2 separate regions of the Homo sapiens genome follow, and region 2 is linked to region 1. A link means that fine-mapping ties the variant in region 1 to the expression of a gene that starts in the linked region. Tissue or cell type: esophagus mucosa. Region 1 holds a variant in brackets; the other region holds the start of a gene. All regions are shown on one strand. Distances are between the middles of the regions.

Region 1 (5,937 bases):
GGGGTGTGGGAGGGAGAACAGCAGGGGAGGAGGCGCATGTAGGGGACAGGCAAAAAGAATTCCTGTAAGATCCATTGTCCTGAGCTGGTGGCCCTGCAATTCACTGAGAAGACAGGACAAGCTCAAGAGTGGAAGAGCTCTAATGTCCAAGGGCTGCAGCCCACTCAGAGGAGGTTACAGAAAATTAGGCTCAAAACGGCATCAAGTCCTTCAGCCATTCTGCGGATAGACTCTTTAACTAGAACTACTCAAGGACTTCCAGTCCTGCAAAATCCCATGATGGACGACTGGCTCTCTGCTGGTGCCTCATACAAGGAAGACAAAGGGCACAGCGGAGTTGAGGCCAGGGCCAGTGTGCGCAGTGGAGGAGAAAGCAGCAGGAAGACAAGGGCAGAGCTCAGCAGGAAAGAGCAGAGGCTCTATTCAAAGGACAGCAGGTCTGGGTGAGGGCCCTCATTGTCGAGGCTGGAGGTCCGTGCCTGAGGAGGGGGGCTGCCATCCTCCCAGGACTCAGCCAGGCTGATGGGGCTCAAGCTGAGTTTGAAGCCATTCCTCTCGATAAGGCTGGGGGAGGAGGCCCTTCTGCACTCAGTCATCTTTAGCTTGGATTCGTCCTGGCTATCCTTGTGGATTAGGTCAGGTACTGACAGGGAAACCTCTCCATTGGGCAGAACTTTGCCTCTCTCTTCTCTTTCCATGGTGGCCTCTGGCTGTGAAGCGTCTGCTGGGACGTCAGGCTGGGCAGTGGGAGCGGAGTCCTGGGCCTGCCCAGGTGATGGCTCTGTCCCATACTCCAGACTGCTGAGGACAGGCTGTGATGAAATCAGCATGTCCTGGGTGGTCTTCAGGGCCCGAGGGGTTCGCTTTCTGGTTATGGGAGGTGGAGGATCCAGCCGAGGAAATGTTTCTTGCAGGACTGACCTGTAAGGTTAATGACAATAAACACACATGCCTTAAGGACAGCAAGACACCAATCCACCTGCCATCTTGCTTCTCCAACTCCAACTGCACTTTCAACCCACCCCACCCAATAACTGCTCTACTCCTTGGGCTCTGGTTCTTGGTTTGGCACATAGGCCTTAGCAATTTCAGCATAACAGTAGCTTTTGGCCTGGTCCATGCTTACTCAGTGTTCAGAGCAGCACAAAGTGCTGGCCTCTAGAAGACAGGATAGAGACCGCTGGTGAAGCTTGTCAAATCAGAACCCAGGCAGTAAGTCCTGTGTTTAAAACAGGGAATGTGAGGGCATTCCCACCTCAGATGCACAGGTGTTTAAAACAAGGCCTGGAAAGAGCCTGTTGGTAGGAGGGGGAAGAACAGGAGGGCTGCTACAGGGGGCTTCTCCCACTGTGCCCTAGTGGGCTGTGACAGGTGCAGGCTTCTCCACAAGCAACAGTCTACGGCAGCGCTTCTCAGCTATGGCCGGGCATCAGAATCTACCTGGGGACCTTCTGGGCAATAGCTGGGTTCAAATCCAGCTCTGCCAAGTACTATCTTTGTGACCTCAAGCTATTTACTTTGTCTGTCTGAACGTGAGTTATCTGCAGGATGGAAATATCATCTACCTCCCAGGGCTGCTGGGAGGGTTAGACAAAATGATGCAACTATAGCCTGCAGCACAGAGCTGAGGACATGGTGTGCACTCAGCAACCTTCAGCAGCACAGAGCCGAGGACATGGTGGGCACTCAGCAACCTTCAGCTGTGGCTGCAGAAGGTGAAGCCAGCTCCCGAGAACGTGGCCTGATCCTGCAGCTTTTCAGTACAGGACAATCTCACACCCCTCCCTTGGGGCTGTTCTCCTGTGCAGACACTGCAGTTTGTCCCTGTACCTTTTCAAGTGGGTCCACAGAGGGGCATGGATGTTGGGCGGGTGAGGGGCTCACCTTTCATCCTCTAGCCAAGCCTCTGGAGCCGCGTCAGTCCCACTGGCCAGCTGTGCTCCTGCAGTCTTGTTGATCTCTGTCACACCCACACTGCCCAGGCTGGAGGGCTCCTTTCTCCTCAGGAAGTCATTCACTTTGGCCCCCATGGCTTTGCCCAGGTTCTTGAGGTGCTGGCTGCTGCCCACCCAGAGTCCTGGCCCCCCAGGCTCACCAGAGCCCAGAGGGGCAGAGCCGGGGGCCACGGGCTTGGACAAGTGGGGGAAGGAGCGGCTGGCCTGGAGCTTTGGAGTGAGGGCTGTGTTCAAATTCTCAAACATGCCGTGGTCAACTATGAACAAAGAGGCGACAGAGAGGCATGATGAGGAAAGGGGAGCGGTACCTGTGCTCTATCATTCAGTTTTTCCTTATCCCACACCCAAAACCTGTAACTTCCAAGGCTTTGGAAATATTCAAGAAAGAGCCAGCAAAGACACTCTTGAACTTTCCAGTGTAGTTTTCTTGATGGGACAGGAACTAGAAATTCTAGCTCTGCCCCACCCAAGTTAATCAGTGAC[T/C]AATGCTAGCCATAAAAAAATAAAGTTGTTCCTGTAAACCTGCCTCCTTGACTCATGGGCTTGGCCCCTTTACCTTGGAGTCACCACGCCCTTTGGAGTAAAGAAAAAATGAGGATGAAGCAATGAAACATGACATTTTTACATCACCGTAAGCACGTGCTGAGCTCTCAGTGGGTTGGAAGCTGGTGGAGGGATGGCATGGATGAGGCTTGGTGTTAGAAGCTCCCCACTGAAGGCCATGAGTATAGCACATATTCTCCACAAAAAATGGGGCAGCAGCTCCTCAGGTCTACAGAGGTGGGCCTTGAGCGAGTGGGCCAGCTCTTGCAGAGGTGCTAAGTGGTGGTTCAGAATCAGTTCGTACCAAATGGATAGGAACTCGGTGCCAGTGAAGCACGAGGATCCCAATGAACATCAGCTTACTTAATCCTTACAACCACCTAGGGAGGTGGTACATGGAAGGATATCTACCTACAGATGAAGCCTGCAGGACTCCGCGTAATGCAGTGCCGTGCCTGAGGTCACACAGCTAAATACTAGCAGGGCTGGAGCTAGAACTCAGGCCTTCTAACCCACAGCTCAGGGCTCTGTCCACAACTTTGCCCTGCTATAGATCATGGAACAGCTGCCTATATATGCCTGGTACATGGTCCTTCTTGTAGGGATCCTCTTTGGCTTGAAAAATTAACTCAAAGAGCTGGGTATAAACCCATTAGGTTGTAAAGATTTGCAAGGCAGAGAGCATGCCTCATTCATCTTTGTATTTTCAACACCTAGCCTGGGTTTGGTACCTAGCTGTGCTCAATACAGATCTTGAATCGCCAAAACCCATTTTGTAGATAGAAAATTGTGGTGGCCAAGGTGGTAGCTTAAAGGTTTGTTATTGAAATGACTGGAGCTCCAGGCTCTAAGCCATGCTGTCCACACACTCACACTTGGCCATCCTCTCCCTATCTGGAAATCCAGCTCAGTCATCAGGCAGCCAGACCCACTCTGAGGCCTTGGAATCTGGGTCAAGGTTTCTGTCTACACCAACTACCCCAGATATGTTGTCAGTCTGAGGAAAGGAGATCGCTCGATCATTTGATGACTAGGCTCCTTTCCTTGTGAACACCTCTGCTAAGTGTCTATTTTCACTGAGCCTCTTCTAAGAGTAACTGGGGTTAGGGTGTACTTTTTCTTCTGCTGAATTTTTGTGTAAAGCAGTTCTTTCTGCCCTGCACTGCTGTATCCCGGGCCAGTGAAAACCTTTCTTGTGGTTTCAGTGGTGCTATCCTTTCTAGGCCAACTACCTAGGTATGCCATATTCTAAGGGCCTTTGGGTGGCAGGGAGGAAAACCTGTGGGAAGTGAAGTGGAGACTACTCTCTGCGGATGAGCCCTGTGGCCTGCACCACTGCAGGGTGAGGACCTGCCAGGGAACAGCATGACAGCATCCCTGGGACACAGGGCCCAAGCTGGCTGGGCTCCAGATAGACCCACCACACCAGCAGAAGCTTCCAGCCCGCTCCACAGCAAGCAGGGTCATCAACTCCTGATGATTCTCCTAAGTGTGTATCTTGCCACATCATCCACTTTGGCACAATTTGCCTGTCAGGTCCCACATCCTTCTTATTTTCTTTAATCACGTCATCCGCAAACTAGCAAAGAAGATTTGGAAACCAAACCATTTAACTATTTCCCCCCAAACCAGAAAGTACATAGACAACAATGAAACTGTACGAAATGCCCGGGGAAGGCAAATTGCCACCACTTCCCAAATCAGACATTTCCCTGGTGGTCTCCTTATTGGTTTAAAGTGACTTTTCAGAGCAGACATACTCGTTTTTAAAAAGGCAAGCACCAAAAACACCTGTCAAGGTGATTAGTAAATTATAAGCTATTATTATTTTTAAAACACTCTTTGTAATAAACAGAACTCTGGATTATGCACCATTTTGGATTTCCTGTATTTTTTGCTCTCTACCCTTCATAACATAGTCTATAACGCACTGAATTCTTAAGTAATGTAAAGATAGCCTACCATGCACTCCCTTTACCCTTGTCTAAGTCTTTCCAGTAAATACACCTTGTCTTAAAATGGTAAGGTCCTTGAGGGCCATAGCTCCTGAAGTGTTTCTTTATCTTCTACAATGCCCAGCTTAGGGTCTTGCACGATAGTAGGCATTTAATAAGTTTGTTTAATTGAATTTGACTTTTATATGAATTCTTAAAAATTGCATGATGGACTGACATTGTAGGGAAACTGCTCACAAGTCTTTTTCCATTTATAAAAACCACTCAAAACTCCCTCTATGGGAGTGGTCTTCAGGGGCTCTTGAGGTCAGACCCGGATAACTGCCCTTCTATTCAAAGTGAAAGTGGGGCTCTGGCTGGGGGGTCCCTTTATCCCTATGTCTGAGGATGTGCAATGGGTCCCTTTCTTGATGATGACGCTAATGACCCCCACACATTATCTCTCTTGCTTCAGGACTAGAGGCTTGATGGTTCAGAAAATAATGGCAATGGAGGACAGAGAGATGACTGGACCCCAGCCAGGTGGCCCTCCCAACAGTACCCCCCAACATGCACACACCCAAGCAGAGGAGGGCATCTGGGGATGTAAGTCATCCACAAAAAAACAGGATATCTTACCTGTCCGAGAAAGGGGCTCGGAAAGCAGGTGGGAAACAAACAAAAGAAAGACACATTTTACGTAGTGACCAGTCACTTTGAGAGTGTCACCTCCTGCCTGGGCCACCAGCACCAGCATACCTCGGGGGGACACAGCACACAAGACAGGGGACCTGCTACGAGGAGTGGTGTGCACCCTGGAACCGCCAGGCTCCCACAAACTTTTCAGTGACTAAACCAAAACCGGGTCGCATTTTAAAAACTCTACACAGGCACTGAGAGATTCTGCCTCCCATATTTCCCCCCAGTATTTTAAGCTCCCTTTACTTTAAGTCTGAGGTTGCAGTGGGAGAGTCTGAAGTTGGCAGTCGGAGAAATGTGATGGGTCAAGACAGAATGCAATTCCAAGTCCTCGGGGTCCTGTGTGCATCACTCACAAGTATGCTACTGTCCACATGTCAGTCACTGGGTTTTAGCCAGGAAGATGTTCATCCATTCCAGTTTAGAGTCTAAACTAATAACATGGGTAAACCAAGTAGCAGAGAGATTTGCCCAATATCACACAGGTAGCTCATGGCGGAGCAGGGTTAGAAGTCACATAAGCTGATGCCCAGACTCATGAGCTTTCTCTACACCATAATGGACCAAATGAAATTGCTGATACCCCCCAAACTGCCAAAGTATGTGGCTTCAACTTACTTTCCAATACATGCTAATGTTCCAAACCAGGCTATCTGGGAGGAACACGAGGGGAATCATGTTCTCCCATTGTCCTTCGAATGTTTCAGTACCGTGAATAAATACACACAGGAAGACAACTCTGGGCTCTCACGTGCAGAAGCTAACTCACACCTCACTCACACATGCTCGACAGCACTGCAAAACAA
Region 2 (5,937 bases), 120 kb before region 1:
GAGTGAAACTCCATCTCAAAAGAAAAAAAAAAATCATCATAAATTGAATACTCTTAAGTTGAAAGTAAGGACCCCAAAGCAAAGCACTGGTGAAGTTTACCTTCCATTCCTGAGATCTGACTGTATGTTTCAGTTTCATTCCTGAGAACATTTCCAGTAAAATGATTCCTAGGCTCCACAGATCAACAGCTGAGGTACATTCTGTATCACTCTGCAGGCCAGCCTGGGCCAAGCAATTTTGCAATTCTGCTTCTGGAGCCCGATACCCGTCTGTCTGAATATACTTTACATCCTAAAAAAGATGAGTAAATATTACAACCAATAAAAAAGCTGCTCCCTTTCTATCCATCTCTACAGTGAATTTACTTCCCTAAGAGTGCAGTAAACCCACTGCCAAGCTAAATGCTAAAAATTTTTAGTCCTTGATTACCATAATTCTTTGGTTCATTAACTGGGCAGTTCTCAGAGGCAAGCTGTACATTTCCATATAGCGCTCATAAAGAAGTCTTCTTTGGATTGTCTCTTACCTATTAGGCACTGCTGATAATAAGGACACTGCAAAGAAATGATAAACCATGGAGAAAAGAGGATTTGGCAGAACTATCATATGCATTCTGCCACGAGATACAGCCCCAACACTGAAGAGACCAGGAATAGTAACTCAGCAATTAGCCAAACACGCATAAAATTTAAAAAACCATTCTATGTAGGTTAAGTACTTTTAATAATTCCAGAGCTCTCATGCTTCACTGGCTCCTCCTACCTGACCCAAACATTATGTCCTTTTTTTACACGGTGGCACTGAAATTCTTTTGATTTACTGCATCCCCTGGCATTTCAGTAATTTAGGTTAAAATGACTTGTAAGCCCCTACTAAACTACCCTTGTCATTTAAAAATATTTGGCTTCAACCACTACATTTTAAACTGCGAGAGAAAAGAAAAGGTTATTTCTTACCTGATTGCCTTCTTTGAAGCTAAGTCCAAAGTCAATGAGTTTAAAACATTCATTCTCTGCACTCCACAATATGTTACGTGGTTTGAGGTCCGCATGGACATAGCCCTCATGATGAAGAAAAGCAAGGGCCTCCAAAACATCTCGGGCACAATGCTGTATCATCCACATGGAACAACCCTGGTGACTGGAATATAAGAGCAATTCCGAAACACTGACATCCAGGAGTTCAAGCAACAGACAGCGTGATGGCACATTTGGAGAAAAGTGGATTGTAAACACTCCATACAAAGTCACTAGAAAAAGAAATTATAATACTTTAAAAATCAGACTCAGAGTAAGTCACTACTAAAGTAGGTAACTGCAGTACAAATTTGAGATAGTCTAGATAAGGATAACTTTGATGAGCAAGCTTCCACTGTAATTTATTTTTCCCATGAATAAGATCTTTTGGCAATTGGGTTATTTTAATAAAAATAAGATGAGACAGCCTACAACAGCTGATTACCATTCACAGATACTAAATATGGTACAATTATTCAATTTGTGTTTCACCAAGTACTCATTGGTGATGAACACGAACTTGGAGTGCCAAGCAAAAATGATTAAAAGTAAAAAACCTAAATATAAATAAATAAAACTTACTGTTGCATCATGAGGTCCTTTAAAAAAAAAGAAATTTTTAAAAGTAAAAACCCAAATATTAAGTAACTCTTTTAAAAGGAATGTCACAATGCGCAAAAACCAAACTAAACATTGCTTCTTCATCCAAAACAGCAGTCTAGGTCTGCCACGGTGGCTCATGCCCGTGATCCCAGCATTCTGAGAGACCGAGGCAGGAGGACTGCTTGAGCCCAGGAGTTTGGAGACCAGCCTGGGTAACAAAAGGGGACCTCTTCTCTACAAAAAATTAGCCAGGCTTGGTGCTACGTGCCTGTAGTCCCAGCTACCTGGGAGGCTGAGGTAGGAGCATGGCTTTAGGAGGAATTGGAGGCTGGAGTGAACTGTGATCTCGCCATTGTACTCCAGCCTGGGTGACAGAGTAAGAACTTGTCTCAAAAAAAAAAACTAAAACAAAAATAAACAGCTCTCTATAATCTAAATACTAACAAAGAGATTAAGACTTTTCGGATGAAATTTTAATCTTGCAGAGATCAGGCAAGTCCCTAGGCTTGCAAAATTTTTCCCTTTTCAATACCAAGGTTATAGTAACAGACCATTTAGTAAACTAAAAAAATGTAGCACTAGTGTTAATTCTTCTCCAAAATGATATTATAAAAAAACTCACTCTTCAAATTAACTATGCATCATACTTGCTAGGAAATAAGACTTTTCTTTAATAACCAAAGCTATAACTAATGATAAGCTTTCTGTCGTGTAATGAAAATGAAACCTTTTCACAGATCAATCATCAGTGATCATTACATATCTTACATTCTGAGTATCTGATTCTTGAAACAGTCTCAAGAGAGCAAAGGTATAGTGTTCCTAAATTTCACACTTCTATAAAGGCTCCCATGGAATAGTGCATCATTTCTTCCAAATCCGTACTAAAGATATAATAGGTGAGCTATACGAGTTACTAGCATTGATGTCACAAGGCCCAGACGTAGTTCCCATTTTCTACTGGTATGCAAAGATTCAAAAATTTCCACACAAGACACGACAATCTAGCAAAGACATGCCTCCTCTCACTAGAAAAGATATTTCTGTATGCTAATGAATGCGGCATTCTCCGATGAGACTCGAAGCAAGACAATTTACTGAGCATCTATGTGACACCTGGCAAAGCAGACCACCAACTCCACTATACCGCAGACAGTAATAAAGTGAAAGGGGAAAGGGGCCTGGATGGGGTGATAAAGAGGGCTAAACCCGCTTCTCCCGCAGAAGGGGAGGAAGATGGAACGCCAGACAGCGAGAGGAAGAGTGTGCTCGGACTGTGACCTGGGCAAGAAGAGAAAGGAGACAGCGGCAATTACCGATGTTTCTGTGACCCTGCAACTGTTCCAGCGCCGCCCTCTCTTTGCGGAAACCATACTCGGCGGCAGAGGCCGCAGCCCCGGTGGTTCCTGGCGGCAAGAACTGCTTGAGGGCGCCGGGGGGCGAGCCAGGGTTGCCGCAGCAGCGAACCCGATACACCGAGGCGGAGGAGCCGCTACCCAGACGGCTCTGTACCTGCCACAGCCGCCCGAAGGCCTCCAGAAAACGCGGCGGCTCCGCGCCCCAGGCGCAGCCGGATCCCGCCATCGGTGTGGGTTAAGGGCACGGACACGGGAGCTGACGCGACGCCTGAGGCAGGCCGGCCGGGCCCGCGGTCACATCTCCGCCAGCCGGACCAGCGGCTCCGCAGGGAGGGACCTGCAGCCGCCTCACCGACTCCCGGGACTTCAAGCAGCCATGACACCGGAAGCCGTGGTGCACCCGAGTCCCAGAAGCCGGAAATGGAGGAAGAGCCTATCATACAGGCCGAAGGAGGGGGGGCTCAGAAGGGGCGGGGCCTAGAAGAGATTAGACGCGCTAGGTTTGGAAAAAAGAACCGAGAATAAGAAGTAACCTTAATTATTGAGTATCTACCATTCCAGGCCCAGTGTTAACCGCTTTCACATAGACCTGAAGCCAAAACTGGTCCTTTTTCTTGTTGAGGCACCTCACCTTACCTCACCACTAGGAACCCGAAAAATAAAACCCGGCCTACATTTCTCATAGAAAGGATCCCAAGGAAAACACCCCAGGAACAAAAAGAGAGTTTACCATCACCTCCAGGTCCACGGTCACCAGAACCCATGATTCTGGAAGCCTAGACCTTTGTTCTTCTTTTAGATGTAAACCGAAAATACAATTCTAAGCCCCCCGTGTCGCCAACCATCGGAATGGACTTTCTCCCAGGCCAGGGCACTCTAAAATTCTGGTTCAGTCCATGACGGGAAGTGGGGGTCCGACTAGCCTCATACCTCTCCGGTTAAGGTCAACACAGACCTTCGGTCTGGTAAGAAACATTTACAATCTATTTTCTTGGAAGCCTGGTACCTGGAGGCTTCATCTGCATGACAAAACTTTGGTCTCCACAAGTTCTTATGACAACCCAGACATTCCTTTCTATTGATAACTCTTTCAACCAATTGCCAATTAGAAAAATTTTAAATCTACCTATAACCTGGAAGGACCCATTTCTCCCCCCACCAATTCCCGCTTCGAGTTTTCCCACCTTTCTGGGCCAAATCAATGTATTTCTTAAATATATTTGATTGAAGTCTCATGTCTCCCAAAATGTATAAAACCAAGCTGCACCCCAACCACCTTGGGTACATGTTCTCAGGATCTCCTGAGGGCTGTGTCACAGACCATGGTCACTCATAGTTGGCTCAGAATAAATCTCTTCAAATATTTTACAGAGTTTAACTCTTTTTATCAACATAGTCCACCTTGCCTATGGCTCCCTCATCAAAAAGCATTCACCCTGGGCAAACACGGATCTGTTCCAAATTTTTATTTTTCATTTATTTATTCAATTATTTTATTCATTCAGCAAACGTTTATTGAGTAACAAATGTAGCAAATAGGCATCTCAATCCACAAACTCGAGTGTGTAAGAAATGTAGCCTTCTTTACTTTTCAGTCATTCAACCTTTTCTATTTCAAGATCTATTCTGATTGTGTGGCAAAAACTTAGTATCAGACAATAGGCCCTATCTTCTTTTCTTCAGGTTTTGTGTAAGTTCCCAGCCAGATGAGATGGTTCATGTAGTGCTAAGTGGAAAGTTTGAGGAGAGGTTGAGGACTAAACTCTGACCTGTCTTCTCTCTTGCTCAATTTTTTTTTTTTTTTTTTTTTTTTTTGGTAAGACGGAGTTTCGCTCTTGTTGCCCAGGCTGGGGTGCAATGGCATGATCTCGGCATCTCCGCCCACCGCAACCTCCTCCTCCTGGGGTCCAGCGATTCTCCTGCCTCAGCCTCCCAAGTAGCTGGAATTACAGGAATTTGCCACCATGCCAGCTAATTTTGTATTTTTAGTAGAGATGAAGTTTCTCCATGTTGGTCAGGCTGGTCTCGAACTCCTGCCCTTGTGATCCGCCTGCCTCACCTTCCCAAAGTGCTGGGATTACAAGCGTGAGCCACTGCACCTGGCCCCAAATTCTTATCTAAGGGATGTGAGGAGTCACAGCCTACAAACCATAAAATCTCATCAGATTGTCAGAGGTGTTCAAACCAGAGCAACTCCATCTTGAATAGGAGCTGGGTAAAATAAGGCTCAGATCTACTGGGCTGCATTTCCAGGAAGTTAGGTATTCTAAGTCACAGGATGAGATAGGAGGTCAACACAAGATACAGGTCACAAAGACCTTGCTGATAAAACAGATTGCAGTAAAGAAGCCAGCCAAAACCCACCAAAACCAAAATGGTGGTGAAGGTGACCTCTGGTCGTCCTTACTACTCATTAGATGCTAATTATAATACATTAGCATGCTAAAGGAAACTCTTACCAGCACCATTACAATTTACAAATGGTATGGCAACGTCCTGGAAGTTACCCTACATGGTCTAAAAAGAGGAGGAACCCTCAGTTCCAGGAATTGCCCACTCCTTTCCTGGAAAACTCATGAATAATCCACCCCTTGTTTAGCATATAATCAAGAAATAACTATAAATATGAATAACTATAAGTCGAGCAGCCTAAGCTGTTGCTCTGCCTATGGAGTAGCCATTCTTTTATCCCTTTTACTTCCTAATAAACTTGCTTTATGGACTCATTCTGAATTCTTTCTTGCGTGAGGTCCAAGAACCCTCTCCTGGGGTCTGGATTGAGACCACTTTCCAGTAACAAGATAGGTTGGTTGGTTGGTTTGTTTGTTTGAGACAAAGTCTCACTCTATCACCCAGGCTGGAGTGCAGTGGCGTGATCTCAGCTCACTGCAACCTCTGCCTCCTGGGTTCAAGGAATTCTCCCACCTCAGCCTCCCGAGTAGCTGGGATTATAGGCATG

Direction of the effects. Alleles are on the strand shown, and positions count from the first base shown. SD is a standard deviation of normalised expression in the study named.
For the expression in esophagus mucosa of the gene that starts at base 3,387 in region 2, allele T in region 1 goes with a higher level than allele C (small effect, 0.32 SD a copy in GTEx).

The links. PIP is the estimated chance that this variant, and not a neighbour inherited with it, causes the effect.
Region 2: UHMK1 starts here. The variant in region 1 is fine-mapped to the expression of UHMK1 in esophagus mucosa (GTEx, PIP above 0.99).

The regions. Positions count from the first base shown.
Region 1 is chr1:162,378,166-162,384,102 of GRCh38, reverse strand. It overlaps C1orf226 (chromosome 1 open reading frame 226), which reads right to left and starts at 2,375. Exons shown (of 2, transcript NM_001085375.2): 1 at 1,885-2,375; 2 at 1-921. The coding sequence starts at 2,201. The coding sequence ends at 420. RefSeq lists a silencer at 1,430-1,724. The variant T/C (reference allele first, on the strand shown) is at 2,439.
Region 2 is chr1:162,495,268-162,501,204 of GRCh38, reverse strand. UHMK1 (U2AF homology motif kinase 1) reads right to left here and starts at 3,387. Exons shown (of 8, transcript NM_175866.5): 1 at 2,937-3,387; 2 at 958-1,250; 3 at 101-292. The coding sequence starts at 3,204. RefSeq lists enhancers at 2,650-3,150, 3,337-3,416, 3,151-3,651.